Linked DNA regions of Homo sapiens. The protein of the gene in region 4 purifies or fractionates together with the protein of the main gene of each other region. This does not show direct contact. Each region holds a gene or a part of one and is shown on either strand. Other genes may lie near its edges.

The links.
Region 1: the proteins of LIN28A (region 4) and PURA purify together in Homo sapiens (affinity purification with mass spectrometry; 3 studies listed by BioGRID and IntAct, with this or other methods). This does not show direct contact.
Region 2: the proteins of LIN28A (region 4) and ZC3HAV1 purify together in Homo sapiens (affinity purification with mass spectrometry; 3 studies listed by BioGRID and IntAct, with this or other methods). This does not show direct contact.
Region 3: the proteins of LIN28A (region 4) and RSBN1 purify together in Homo sapiens (co-immunoprecipitation; 3 studies listed by BioGRID and IntAct, with this or other methods). This does not show direct contact.

Annotation. Positions count from the first base shown.
Region 1 is NC_000005.10:140,120,651-140,124,150, forward strand, and holds part of PURA (transcriptional activator protein Pur-alpha), read left to right. Parts: 3' UTR 1-3,500. UniProt on the Homo sapiens protein: This is a probable transcription activator that specifically binds the purine-rich single strand of the PUR element located upstream of the MYC gene. May play a role in the initiation of DNA replication and in recombination.
Region 2 is NC_000007.14:139,078,721-139,082,220, reverse strand, and holds part of ZC3HAV1 (zinc finger CCCH-type antiviral protein 1), read left to right. Parts: intron 1-1,977; coding exon 1,978-2,751; coding exon of another isoform or gene 2,752-3,117; intron 3,118-3,500.
Region 3 is NC_000001.11:113,798,977-113,802,476, reverse strand, and holds part of RSBN1 (lysine-specific demethylase 9), read left to right. Parts: intron 1-3,500. UniProt on the Homo sapiens protein: Histone demethylase that specifically demethylates dimethylated 'Lys-20' of histone H4 (H4K20me2), thereby modulating chromosome architecture.
Region 4 is NC_000001.11:26,420,817-26,424,316, forward strand, and holds part of LIN28A (protein lin-28 homolog A), read left to right. Parts: intron 1-3,500. UniProt on the Homo sapiens protein: RNA-binding protein that inhibits processing of pre-let-7 miRNAs and regulates translation of mRNAs that control developmental timing, pluripotency and metabolism.

The DNA of each region.
Region 1 (3,500 bases), on a different chromosome or scaffold from region 4:
GCATGAGTCAGGTAGAATTTCATGATAAAAGAACAACCAGATGAAATAAGAAATAATGATTGGTTTCAAGCCAATGAATCTGCTAAGCTAACTACCAAGTTTTGATGTTGAATGGTCCAGGCAATTTATGTCTTTAGGAAAGCTGAGTGTGGCAAAGGTCACTTGTTAACATTTTTCTTAACAAGAATGTCATAACTACTCATTCATTTTTATTTTGTCCCCACGTTTGGTATTTGTTTTGTTTTGTGTTTTTCCTTCCTGATGTCCTTTGCTTTTGTGGAAGATTGTCCTGTTGATAGGCAGAAACATGGTGGTGATCCTCTATGTAAAATATAGTTGCTTCTTACACATCAGAAGTATTTCACTCATTTTGGAATCACAGGATTTTCATGTTTTCATAAATACACACATTGTTTTGATAATTATTAGCAATTAGCTTATTTTGTAGCATTAGATGGAAAAATGTTTAAGCTAAAGAGTTTAATTTTCTTGATTTTGGTTCCACTTTAATAATTCAAGAGGCCTCCAAGTTCAAGGACCAAGTCCTTCTATTTTAGAATTGTGAAAAACATGGAAATACTCTTGTTAGTGTGTGTTTTGGTCTAAGGTAGATTATTAACACAGAAGGATCCTAGGAGGATTTAAGAAAATATGTCCTTATCGTGAAGTGGCAGTTAAAGTTATGGGACAGGTGAATTACCTATTCATCTTGACTAGCTCAAACAATGATAGCCATCAGCTAATGACTTATCAGACACATGTTGAGTTTGGGTCAAACTCCCATTCAGCTGGAGTGGATTGGCAATTTTAAATGCAGGTAGTTGGTGGTGGTACTTGACCTACCTCCTTACCATGTACATCTGGCATCTTCTCTCTCCTATCCTTTTTCTTTGTTTCTCTCTCCACTTTTACTCTTGCTGTAGGCCTACCAGTGGCACTCAAGCTTACTTCTTCAGAGAGAAGTAAAGAAATTTCTGACTCCTGCCTTAGAACATAGCTAACTGATGATCCAGAACAATTTCAGTATTATGAGGTAACTGGGCAGTTTTTTTCTGATTGCTATTTTCCCCATAGTCTTAAGCTGGCAGTTTGAAGGTATCTAAATTAATGTTAAGAAACTTGTGAACTGAAGAGAGTAAGAAGTATGTGTATTTTAGGTAAGTTACTGGGAACTGAGACTTACTGGTTTGGAAATTGGAGAGTAGGACGAGGAGAGCTGTTTAATGTGTTTGTGGATGGGGGTTTGAGAGGTATATAGAGAATGGTTTGGAAATAAAGTGAGAGGAATTTTTACTAGAGGTAGGAAAAGGTACTATGATGGAGTCCGAATGAGAGTTATTTGCTAAGGAAATGAAGTTGATCTTCACTAAGGAAGTTTCAATAAAGCCAGAGAAAATGGGTCCCTCATTGATTATGAGAAAGCTGTTAGTTACTATAGCTAGAGTTATGATAATGATCATGCATTATACAAGTCTGTTTTCATGTATAGGATGTCTGCTTTTCTGGGACAAATTAGCACAATTGTGGAATGACAGCTTTTCTGGTCAAGGCAAGTGGATGCTGGGGAGTTATTATTTTGAGGAAAAGAAAATTTCAAGCTTTTCACCATTATTCTTTTTAAACTATCAGAAATATTTATCACACATACTATCTATTTTCTTGGGCTCTTGTTACAATGTAGTTTACCTTTACTTTTCAAATGGTCCTTAGATCAAATTATTTGATTTTGTACTCCACAAAGACACATATTATTCCTTGCTTTTATAGAATTTTGAGACTTTGGCCCACACAAATTTCTTAGAAGACAATAAACCAGGTAAAAACACTAACTTGCAATTTTAGGTGTCTTTTTTATTTCTTTTACATTTGCATCCGTAGCAACCATTTAACCTTGTAGACCTTATGAGGCCCTCAATAATACTGTATTTCTAAAATTAGACAACATACCCCCCAAACTCATGTTTCTGTTTCCCTACTTTCTCTCTTACTTTAAAATTGTAGTATTCCCAAGAGTTCAGTGGTGGCAAATGTTAATAAAATAAGTTAGTACATTTTGGAGGTTCTTATATCCTTTGTAGGGTAAGCTGATAGTGTTTAGATTTCTGTTCCCATTATTCCAGTAGTGTTTTAAATTATTTAAGATAAATAATTACTGTAATGTTTGTTTTTAAGTTACATAATTCAAGTATGTTTGGATTAACTCTTTGTTGTCAAATTTAGTATGGATTTATTCCTGGTGATTTGGACAGATTACTTTGAAGTTTCATTTTACTCACATCTCTATATATTAGTGATAAAAATCTCTTTTAAAAATAGCAAAAAAGTGGTTCTGATTTTGTACTTTGAAGGTAATTTTTCTTTTTTACGAATGTCAGGTTCATTAACAATAGCAGGATTATTTTTACTATAGCTTATTTTGTAGAGTTGGCACTTTAGTATAATTTTCACATTTTATTGTGTCAGATTTTAAATTATAATAGTTATATACTATAACTCATTTAAGTCAATGCAAAGCCTTCTTAAATAGCCCCTCCCTTAGAAATTTGTTTAAAAAGAAGTGAATTCCCAAACCTGTGTCAAGAACTTGTGATTTAAATGACTGTGAGACAAGTCCTTGAAAGGCTTAAGTCTAGTCAGTGGAGATAAATGATAGCCCATTTCCATGCTGCATATAGTTGTTAGGGTTTATAAAGTTGTCAATGTGTAAAAGTGCAAAAGCAGGAAAGACTAAAGTTGCCTGTAAAATTTCTAGTTTTCATTATTTGCACTATTTATCTTTGCACTTGATTTTTTGAAAGTTAAGGCTAGTCACTTTCACTTTTGTTTCTAGTCTTTTCTAATTTCTTGCAGAATTGTGTTTTCAATATTCCACCCAAAGCAAAAATTATATGCAATTAAAAATATTTTATAAGGCCAAGAAAATATTTCTTAATGTTAGCTGTATAAAACAAAAATTTGTTCTGATAAAATTTTTAATATGGGCCTTTATTTGCCAATAAAATCCTTTGTAAATGTGAGCTTTATTAAACTGTTTAAATAGACAAAGTTAAAGCTTAGGATAGGGAATATATATGTATGTGTATATGAAATGATGTCTTCGAGTTTTAACTTCCAGCCTGAGATGGCCTAGATTTGGTGTGTTAGTTTGTTTCACTGAAGTCAGTGAGATAGGAGTCTAGCTGGGTACATGCTTAAAAAGCTGGAAGTGAAGTGGGTGGCAAGTGGCAGCTCCCTCTTTCATGTAGTTTTCCATAATGTTCATATAGTTTCCTTATGGTCTAAGTGTTACAACTGGTTTTCAAGTTGTTATATTGAATATTCCTTTTTGGAATTCAGGGTTGAATCACTTTGAGGGGGAAGGGAAGCAAGGGCAAGAGACTTTATTTTAACCAGATGCGGTCTTATGACCTCAAAGATGTGCTCTAGAAAGAAAATAACAAAAAGTGTACCTGTGAACATATTTTTTGTCTTGGTGATATTATGCAACACAGTGTTCAGAA
Region 2 (3,500 bases), on a different chromosome or scaffold from region 4:
CTCGGCTCACTGCAATGGCCGGCCGCCTCCTGGGTTCAAGTGATTCTTCTGCTTCAGTCTCCCAAGTAGCTGGGATTACAGGTGCCTGCCACCACTCCCAGCTAATTTTTGTATTTTTAGTAGAGACGGGTTTTCATCATGTTGGCCAGGCTGGTCTTGAACTCCTGACCTCAAGTGATCCACCCACCTTAGCCTCCCAAAGTGCTGGGATTACAGGCGTAAGCCACCATGCCCAGCCAAGTGCTGCTATTTCTGAAGCATTTTCATATTATATAATGGCATTCATTTTTAATGTCTTTATGAAGTGGATGTAGGAAAGATGAATTTTATGAAGCAGATAGAATACATGATTCTAGGATTCTGTGCAAATTAATGAACAATTAAACCTCCTTATATTTGGGAAATGGTTTATCATTTACAAGGGACTTTCATCCCAAATAAATATTTCATCATTGTTCCTCACAGTGAAACCACAAAGAAAGGTAGATATGTCATTTTTTAGCCTTACTTAAGAGGGTAAAGAAACTGAGGCTCAGAAATAGTAAGCAATGTTTATTGCAAGCAGCCTCAGCTCATTTTTAGAAGAATGAAGGATAATGTAATGAAGAAATAAAAGGTAACATTTTCAAGGCCTCACATCACTAGAAAGTAGCAGAGTGCATGTTCTGATCCCATATCTAATGCTTTTTCTCTCTCACTACAGTTCCCTCTGAACAGAGGAATGTCTGGAGGGATGGGTTTTGGTGGTAGCTTCTCAATGTAAACTTATTGTGAATGAGAAAGATCTGTATATATTTTCACTTCCAGTTAATCTCCTGAGTTAAGCCTTTTCTTGACAGGAGGAGGGTGTTTGCTTTTACTACATAACTACTGCCCCCTGGGTTTGGAAGAGAAAAAAAATGTCTCTTCTACCCCTTCCCCACACAAAAAAGCACAATTCACACACACACACGAGCACACATGCACACCTCACATTCACACACCACACGTGCACATGTGCCTCAAACACAGACATGCACATCTTCCACATGTACCCCCGGCACACAAACACACCCCACATAAACATCACGTGCATGCACGCCACACACACTCCACACGCGCTCACAAACACACCCTAACTCCTTCCTTCCTCCCTGCTTCCAGAAGGGTGTGACCTATCAAGTTTCTAGAGGAAGGCCAATTCCCTGCAGGCCACACTGCTTTGTCGATGTTGACTTCTGATATACTTTGGCCTTATGGAGTGAGATGAAGAAAACTGGAAAAATTTCCAGCTTAAACAAAGTCAGGCCTTTAGACTGTGGTTTCATTTTCTGTTGGTTTCTTTGAGCATTGTGAATCTGTCAATAGCCAGGTACACCCGTATCACGATATGGGCAAAATCGAATGCTTTCTGGAAAATCTTCTCTGATTTGCCCTAATCTATCTCTCCATTGACCCCAGTGATGAACGTTGACTCAGGACCAGGAGATAGTGGACAGCCCCACCTAAAAGTTTTGGGGTTTGGGGGCTACTTTGAGTCCCAGAAGAGAGCCGGGGACTGTCATCCTAGAGCTGATCCTCACTGTCATCCTAGGCCATGGAATGACGTGCTCTGCCGTGCAGGCAGAATGTCAAGATTCTTTCATCAGCTGACACAGTTGGTGAGCACCTGTAGTCTCAGCTACTCAGGAGGCTCAGGTGGGAGGATCGCTGGAGCCCAGGAGTTCGAGCTTGCAGTGAGCTGTGGTCGGGCCACTGCATTCCAGCCTGGGCAACAGAGCAACACTCCATCTCTTAAAACAAAAACAAAAACAAAAAAAACCGTCAGTGTCAAACCACCCATCTTCAAGATTTTTACACATCAGATTACGCCAAGTAATTTGATAGCACTTGGATAGCAAAGCTACAAAAGTGAAGAGGAGGAAGGGTGGTAGGAACTCAGTCACATTAACTCCAATGTTCATTATTTTGTTTCATTTTGGCTTTTTTTCCCCTTAGCTCCTTCTTCACATCGTAGAAACATGGCATATAGGGCTAGAAGCAAGAGTAGAGATCGGTTCTTTCAGGGCAGCCAAGAATTTCTTGCGTCTGCTTCAGCGTCTGCTGAGAGGTCCTGCACACCTAGTCCAGATCAGATCAGCCACAGGGCTTCCCTGGAGGACGCGCCTGTGGACGATCTCACCCGCAAGTTCACGTATCTGGGGAGTCAGGATCGCGCTCGGCCTCCCTCAGGCTCGTCCAAGGCTACTGATCTTGGAGGAACAAGTCAGGCCGGGACAAGCCAGAGGTTTTTAGAGAACGGCAGTCAAGAGGACCTCTTGCATGGAAATCCAGGCAGCACTTACCTTGCTTCCAATTCAACATCAGCCCCCAACTGGAAGAGCCTCACATCCTGGACGAATGACCAAGGCGCCAGGAGAAAGACTGTGTTTTCTCCCACGCTACCTGCCGCCCGCTCTTCTCTTGGCTCTCTGCAAACACCTGAAGCTGTGACCACCAGAAAGGGCACAGGCTTGCTTTCCTCAGACTACAGGATCATCAATGGCAAAAGTGGAACTCAGGACATCCAGCCTGGCCCTCTTTTTAATAATAATGCTGATGGAGTGGCCACAGATATAACTTCTACCAGATCCTTAAATTACAAAAGCACTAGCAGCGGTCACAGAGAAATATCATCACCTAGGATTCAGGATGCTGGACCTGCTTCCCGAGATGTCCAGGCCACTGGCAGAATCGCAGATGATGCTGACCCAAGAGTAGCACTTGTTAACGGTAAATACAAAGGGAAGACACTTTGGGCTAGTACATTTGTTCATGATATACCAAATGGCTCTAGTCAAGTAGTGGATAAAACTACTGATGTAGAAAAAACTGGTGCCACTGGTTTTGGCTTAACAATGGCAGTCAAGGCAGAAAAAGATATGTTACGTACTGGAAGTCAGAGTCTGAGGAACCTGGTCCCCACCACACCTGGGGAATCCACTGCCCCTGCACAAGTCAGCACTCTGCCTCAGTCACCTGCTGCCCTTTCCTCAAGCAACAGAGCTGCAGTCTGGGGGGCCCAAGGGCAGAACTGCACCCAGGTTCCTGTTTCCTCTGCCAGCGAGCTCACAAGGAAGACAACAGGCTCTGCTCAGTGTAAGTCACTGAAGGACAAAGGGGCCTCTGTGTCTTGAGTCTGCAGCAGAGTGGCTATGGCTGGTGGTTTTTCCTTGGATGTTCCCCAGTTCTTAAAGGGTAGAGAGTTAGAGGGTTTTGGTTATGGGGTGGTCTGGTGAGGAGATTGACTAGTGAAGACAGGGAAGGGCCAACCAGTAGAACCACAGGGAATAAACTGCCACATTTATTGACAATAGGAATATTTCAACTATGATTTAAGAAATAAACATAGCTTTCACAGGACTCTGAGGTCCACATTTTTGTTTTATGGAGGGGCTGTCTAGATGCTCATGGGCAAAACATAAATCATAGGAATTTTCTTGAACATGGCCCCCATTTCAGATATTCTTTCCCATTGTGAG
Region 3 (3,500 bases), about 87 Mb from region 4:
CTGGAAGAACTCTCAAGAAGACTGAAAATAATTTATTTTCAGGAAACAACTTTAGTCCTTTAAAAAATCATGAATAATAAGATGTAAGCAATTACACTTGTTTTGCTTTTGTTCATCTACTGTGATTTTTACGAACTGAAGATACTACCTTTTTTTTTTTTTTCCGACTTCTAAGCCATAATTAGAGTATAAGAATTGCTGTTAAGACCTTAAGTTTTGTAGGCCGGGCATGGTGGCTTATGCCTGTAATCCCAGCACTTTGGGAGGCCGAGGCGGATAGATCACTTGAGGTCAGGAGTTTGAGACCAGCCTGGCCAACATAGTGAAACCCTGTCTCTACCAAAAAATACAAGAATTAGCTGGGCATGGTGATGTGCACCTGCAGTCCCAGCTACTTGGGAGGCTGAGGTGGGAGAATCACTTGAACTTGGGAGGCAGAGGTTGCAGTGAGCCGAGATTGCGCCACTGCCCTCCAGCCTGGATGAGAGTAAAACCCTATCAAAAAAAAAAAAAGAACTTAATAATATAGAAAGCTGTTTTTTTGCATTAATGAAAACTTTCAATTGTGTGAAATCAGATGACATTAATTGATAATATTGGTAGTATTAGCACATATGAGGATCTTATTAATAACGTCATGTATTAATAGTTACCTTTTTAAAGACAGCCAGCAATTTGTTTCTTAAGTGAATGTATCTTCCTCTGTAGAATTATGTATTTCTCTTTATATGTAATCACACAGTTGGATAGGTGAAAGTTTTTCTTAATCACAGGTATAGTGTAGGTTGGCTCTTTTTCTGTAAAGAACTGTAGTCAATAAATTTTAGCTTTTGCACTATGGGGAAATACTAAAAATGTGCTGAATAGATTCTCTGTTGGAAAGCTAAAACCAGAAATAGAAAAGTTGTGAAGAAGACTTTGGACACTGACTTTCAAATAACGTTTTAAATTCAAGGCAGGGCAATTGTTATTTTTCTCATAAAGCAACAGTGGCCAGTGTTTGATAATAACCTTTGATAACTTGTTTATACATATGCCATTCTCAATTAGTTGCCACCACGGTAATTCAATAATAAATTTTGTTTACTCATGGAGATTTGTTAGCCAGTATGAAATGGGTAGTCTTAAATTTCTCTGTAAAAAAAGTCAAGCTTTCTGTATCTTACCCTAAGTTAGATAAAAGTCAAAAGCTGAGGCCGGGCGTCGTGGCTCACGCTTGTAATCCCAGCACTTTGGGAGGCTGAGGTGGGTGGATCACTTGAGGTCAGGAGTTTGAGACCAGCCTGGCCAACATGGTGAAACCCTGTCTCTACTAAAAATACAAAAAATTAGCCGGGTGTGGTGGTACATGCCTGTGATCCCAGCTACTCAGAAGGCCGAGAGGCAGGAGACTCTCTGGAACCTGGGAGGTGGAGGCTGGAGTGAGCAGAGATCACGCCACTGCACTCCATCCTGGGCAACAGAGAGAGACTCTGTCTCAAAAAAAAAAAAAATTGAAAAACAGGATTAGTGAGAAGATAGATTGAAATTTACTTCATATTTAAAATTTTTATCATGTTGATTTATGAGATTACAATGTAAGATTCTTTTCTTTATACAGTGGTTTTCTCTTTTTTTGTTTTTTTTGTTGTTTTTTTTTGAGATGGGCCATGTTGGACTAATTGAATGGTTTTCATATAAGTGAATTTTGTGAAACTCGTATAAGTGAAACCCACAGAGACTTGACCAAGTTAGAAATACCACTGGAAAGTTGATAGTAATACAGAAAATGTGTTACAATCAACGCAGTTCTTTCTTGGTGCTAATTTCAGTGGCAGATCTAGGTCACAATTCATTTTCTGCATACCAAATACCTCTTCCGAAGCTTAAAATAACAAGATCTATTTGGAGATATTTTCTTTTCTTGTTTTCCTGTGAAATTGCTAAAACATTAATAGAAGAGAGTAATTAGATGACTATTTTTAAATTGGTCTAACCTTTATATTGAATGGCATTAACATTTAGTTGCTTGGGAGAATTGCCTAAATTACTGATTTGATATTGGGGAAAGTATTTAGATGAATTTTATTTGGTAAGAAGTATACTTCTTACCAAATAAATGACTATTACTAAGTGTTTAATTCTCAAATATCTCAAATATTTAGTTGTATATAGAATAAAAGATGACTTTTTCTCTTGCCAGGTTAACAGTATTCTGATTAAATGTAAATTTTGCTATCTTATTACAGTTTAATTACAAGTGATATTTGCAAATAAACGGTTTTCATTTTATTGTTCTTAGAAGGAAATATTATTTGGCATTAGTAAAGTCTTTGACTTGCTTTTTTAAGTATTTTCTTTAGAAGGTTTCGTAACCCTTGTAGTAGCTAATTGACTTGAAGTGATTTTATATGGAGTATTGGAACTGTCATATATTTACATATTGTACCAAGTAAATTCTTAACTCTAAAATTTGTTGAACTTGTTTTTCTAGATGTAAAAATAGGATTAATTGGAATATTTGTCTTAACTCCAAATTACTTCAATTATGTTAGAAAAAACGATTGTTTGGTGGGTAAATTCTATGCAGTAAATACTAGACCAAACTTGAAGGTTCGTCAGGACTCTACCTGGTATTTAATCCTGAAAGTTTCCTGCTAGGTATATTTTCCAATTAGTAAACAAAAGATGCCATTCCATCTTGGGCTTGTCAATCCATGATAATCCTTTAAAACTTAAAAATAAGTTTTTAAATTATAAAAGTAATATGTTTATTTTAGAAAATTAGAAAATACAGATAAGCAGAAAAGCTAGACATTTAGAATTCTACCACCAATAGATAACTACCATTAATAGCTTGGTATATATTTCTCCAGATATTTTTCTGTGTGTGTGTGTGTGTGTGTGTGTGTGTGTGTGTGTGTGTGTGTGTAAAGCATCTATAGATCAGACAGACTTCTTCATCTCTTTAGGTCCTTTTCTTCTTTCTGGGAATATTTTCTCCTAGACCTTTACATGCCTGGCTTGTCTTATTCTTTAGGAATCACTCTTAATGTTACCTCCCCAAAAGAGCTTCCCCCAAACTTAATGCATCCCACTTATCACTATCTGGTACTTTCTTTTTCTTGTACAATTAGATCATAAGACCCAAGAGATGCCAGGCACCATGGGTCACACCTGTAATCCCAGAACTTAGGGAGGTAGAGGCAGGAGTATAGCTTGAGCCCTGCCTGGGCAACATATGGAGACTCCATACTCCTCAAAAAGCGGGGAGAAAAAGATCCAAGAGATTGGGGATTGTGTATGTCCTAGTCAGCATTATGGTCCTAGCACTTAGTAGGTACTTAAATGTTTGGATGAATTAATGTTTATATAAAAATGGGATCAGAATGTACATGTGTTAAGTGCTCAGGAGAGAAAGGTAAGGTATACATCACTGAACTTAGATTGCTGACAGTCTAGGGGAGGGTGTAAAATGAAATGTTAATAACACAGAGTATAAGTGCTGAGATGGGGATACA
Region 4 (3,500 bases):
ACATATTTGACACTGTTGTTTTACTATAATAGATGAAGCTGTAATGAAGTCTATTCTGGGTAGGGTCTGAGATGCTGTCACCTCCGCTAATGTCAAGTTGGTGGTGCAGTAAGTGGCATGATAGAATGAGCTCTGAGCTTTAAATCAGGAACTCTGGGTTCATCTGACCCTGGCTTTGCTACAGAACTAGCTGTATCAACAACTACTTTTTTTTTTTTTCTTGATGGCTGCTGGCTGTTTGCTAACTGCTTTATAAATATCAGTGTCCTTAAATTTTGGTACAAACGTGCAGTGTTCTAATAGGATTATTCCATACATATTGTTCTAAATCTTGCTTTTTGTTTTTTCTTTTAACAATATTATTTGGTGATCTTTCTCAGCTGAATGATTAAAAATCTGCCTCCTGTTTCATTAATTCATTCAAAAATGTGCTAGGCATTATTTCAGGTACCAAAATGTGGCTGTGAACAAACCAAAGACTTTACGTTGTTCTTAATGGCTGCGTGGTATTCATTATTATAGATGTACCATATTTATTCAACCATTCCCCTTCAAATACACCAGTAGGTTATTTCCAATTTTTTTAAAGCAACAATGAGATACTGAGTATATGTGTCGTGCTAAGACTTCCTACTGATAATCTACTTATATTATGTTGTGTAATTCTTTTTTCTTAGTGATTTATGGTATATTTTTGTAGTTTTACCAGTCTGATTATCTGTCTTAACTTTTCAGTATTTTTCTTAACAATGAGGTGTTTAAATCCTCTGAAATGTATTTTGCATATGTATCATACAAAGTCTGTAGGAATATGACTTCCTTTCCCAATGGATTATTAATTTTTATAGCAGCATTTATTGAATTATTTTTCTTACCTATTGATTTCTCCATATATTCTCAGATCTCTGTGATTTTCCATTTTAATCCTCTGATCCATCTGCTTGGGTTATACTGTCTTTCGGTAACATTATTTTGATATAATTTCAAACTTTAAAAAGGCTGCAAGAACAATACCCAACACTCCCACATAACCTCTACCCAGATTCATTGACTCTTAACATTTTGCCCCATTTGCTTTATCATTCTCTATCTTGCTACAGATAGTTTTTTTTTTGAAACCATAAGTTGGAGACAGTAAGCACTTTTATCTCTAAATATTTCAGTGCGTATTTCCCAAGAATGGGAATATTTATCTTTTTTTTTTTTTTCTGAGACAGGGTCTCACTCTGTCACCCAGCCTGGAGCACAGTTGTGTGATCTCTGCTCACTGCAACCTCTGCCTCCTGGGCTCAAGGGATCCTCCCACCTCAGCCTCCCCAGTAGTTGGGACTACAGGTGTGTACCACTGTGCCTGGCTCATTTTTGTATTATTTTGTAGAGATGGGTTTTTGCCATATTGCCCAAGCTGGTCTCGAATTCCTGGGCTCAAGCAATCCGCCCATCTTGGCCTCCCAAAGTGCTGGGGATTATAGGCATCAGCCACTGTGCCTGGCTGGGAATATCAATCTTACATCGTTTCAGTACACTAATCATAATCAGGAAATTAAACACTGGTACATTTATCTATATACCATATGCAAATTTTGTCAATTGTCCTATTTTTTTTTTTTTTTTCCTGTTTCAAGATCCAATCTGGAATCTTGGATTTCATTGAACTGTTCAGTTCTTCAGGCTTTGTCTTTTTATGACCTTGACATTTTTGAAGTCCTGTTTTATAGGAATGTCCCTCAGTTTGGGTTTGTCTGATGTTCCCTCAAGGTTAGATTCAGGATGTGCATTTTTAAAGTCATAAGTCCTTAGTGCATCATATTAGAAGATATGTGTGTCCCATTGTAGGCAAAGCTAAACTCAAAGAACTTGACTAGGGTATTATCTGCCAGTTTTCTCCACTGTAAACTTGCTGTTTTTCCCTTTGTAGTTGCTACACTGCTGATTATATCCAATTTAAATTGTAATATCTGGTATTCTTGGCAATTTATATTTTCCCATAGCCTTTAGAATCACTCAATCTTCCAATCCAAGATCGTGGTATGTTTTTGCATTTTTTCCTTTAATATATTTGAGTTTTTTCTTCATATAGGCTTTTTACCTTGTTAAATGTATTCTGAGGGTTTTGGTGTTTTTGTTTGTTTCTGAGAGAGGGTCTTACTCTGTCGCCCAGGCTGGAATGCAGTGGCATAATCTTGGCTCACTACAACCTCCGCCTCATGGGCTCAAGTGATGCTCCCACCTCTGCTGGGATTACAGGGGTGAGCCAGACAGAGTCTCGCTCCATCACCCAGGCTGGAGTACAGTGGTGCCATCTCTGCAACCTCTGCCTCCCGGGTTCAAACAATTGCCTCAGCCTCTCGAGTAGCTGAGATTACAGGTCTGCGCACCATACCCAGCTAATTTTTGTGTTTTTTGTAGAAATGGCATTTCGTCACGTAGGCCAGGCTGGTGTTGAACTCCTGGATTCATGTGATCTGCCCACCTCAGCCTCCCCAAAGTGCTGGGATTACAGACAGGCATGAGCCACTGTGCCTGGCCTATTCTGTTTGTTTGGTTTTTTAACATGTTTTGCAGCCATTATTATGATTTCCTTTTTTTTCTTTTTCTTTTTTTTTTTTTTTTTTTTTTTGTTGTTGTTGTTGCCCAGGCTAGAGTAGAATGGCGCAATCTTGGCTCACCGCAACCTCCGCCTCCCGGGTTCAAGTGATTCTCCTACCTCAGCCTCCCAAGTAGCTGGGATTATAGATGCCCACCACCACGCCTGGCTAATTTTGTATTTTTAGTAGTAGAGACAGGGTTTCTCCATGTTGGTCAGGCTGGTCTCAAACTCCTGACCTCAGGTGATATGCCCGCCTCGGCTTCCCAAAGTGCTGGGATTACAGGCATGAGCCATTGCGCACGGCCCATTAGTATTATTTCTTAAATCATTGAGCATCTTGAGTTTGTTTTTTTGTTTGTTGGTTTGTTTGTTTTGCGACGGAGTCTTGCTCTGTCACCCAGGCTGGAGTACAGTGGCGCGATCTCAGCTCACTGCAAGCTCTGCCTCCCAGGTTCATGCCATTCTCCTGCCTCAGCCTCCGGAGTAGCTGGGACTACAGGCACCCGCCACCACGCCTGGCTAATTTTTTGTATTTTTAGTAGAGACGGGGTTTCACCGTGTTAGCCAGGATGGTCTCGATCTCCTGACCTCGTGATCCCCTGCCTTTGCCTCCCAAAGTGCTGGGATTACAGGCGTGAGGCAGCGCACCCGGCCTTTTTTTTTTTCTTTTTTAAATAAGGCATATCATATTGCTTTGATTATAAAAATACCACTTGATTTTGTATTTTTTCCAGTATTCTACTTATTTGGTCTTTTGATGATGGTATAAATACTAAGTGAGGCATTATGTGAAAAATGAATATTTCAGTGCTTCATAGCGTGACATTTTATTTTTATTTTATTTATTTATTTCTTTGAGATGGAGTCTTGCTCTGTCAACCAGGCTAGAGTACAGTGGCATGATGGCTCA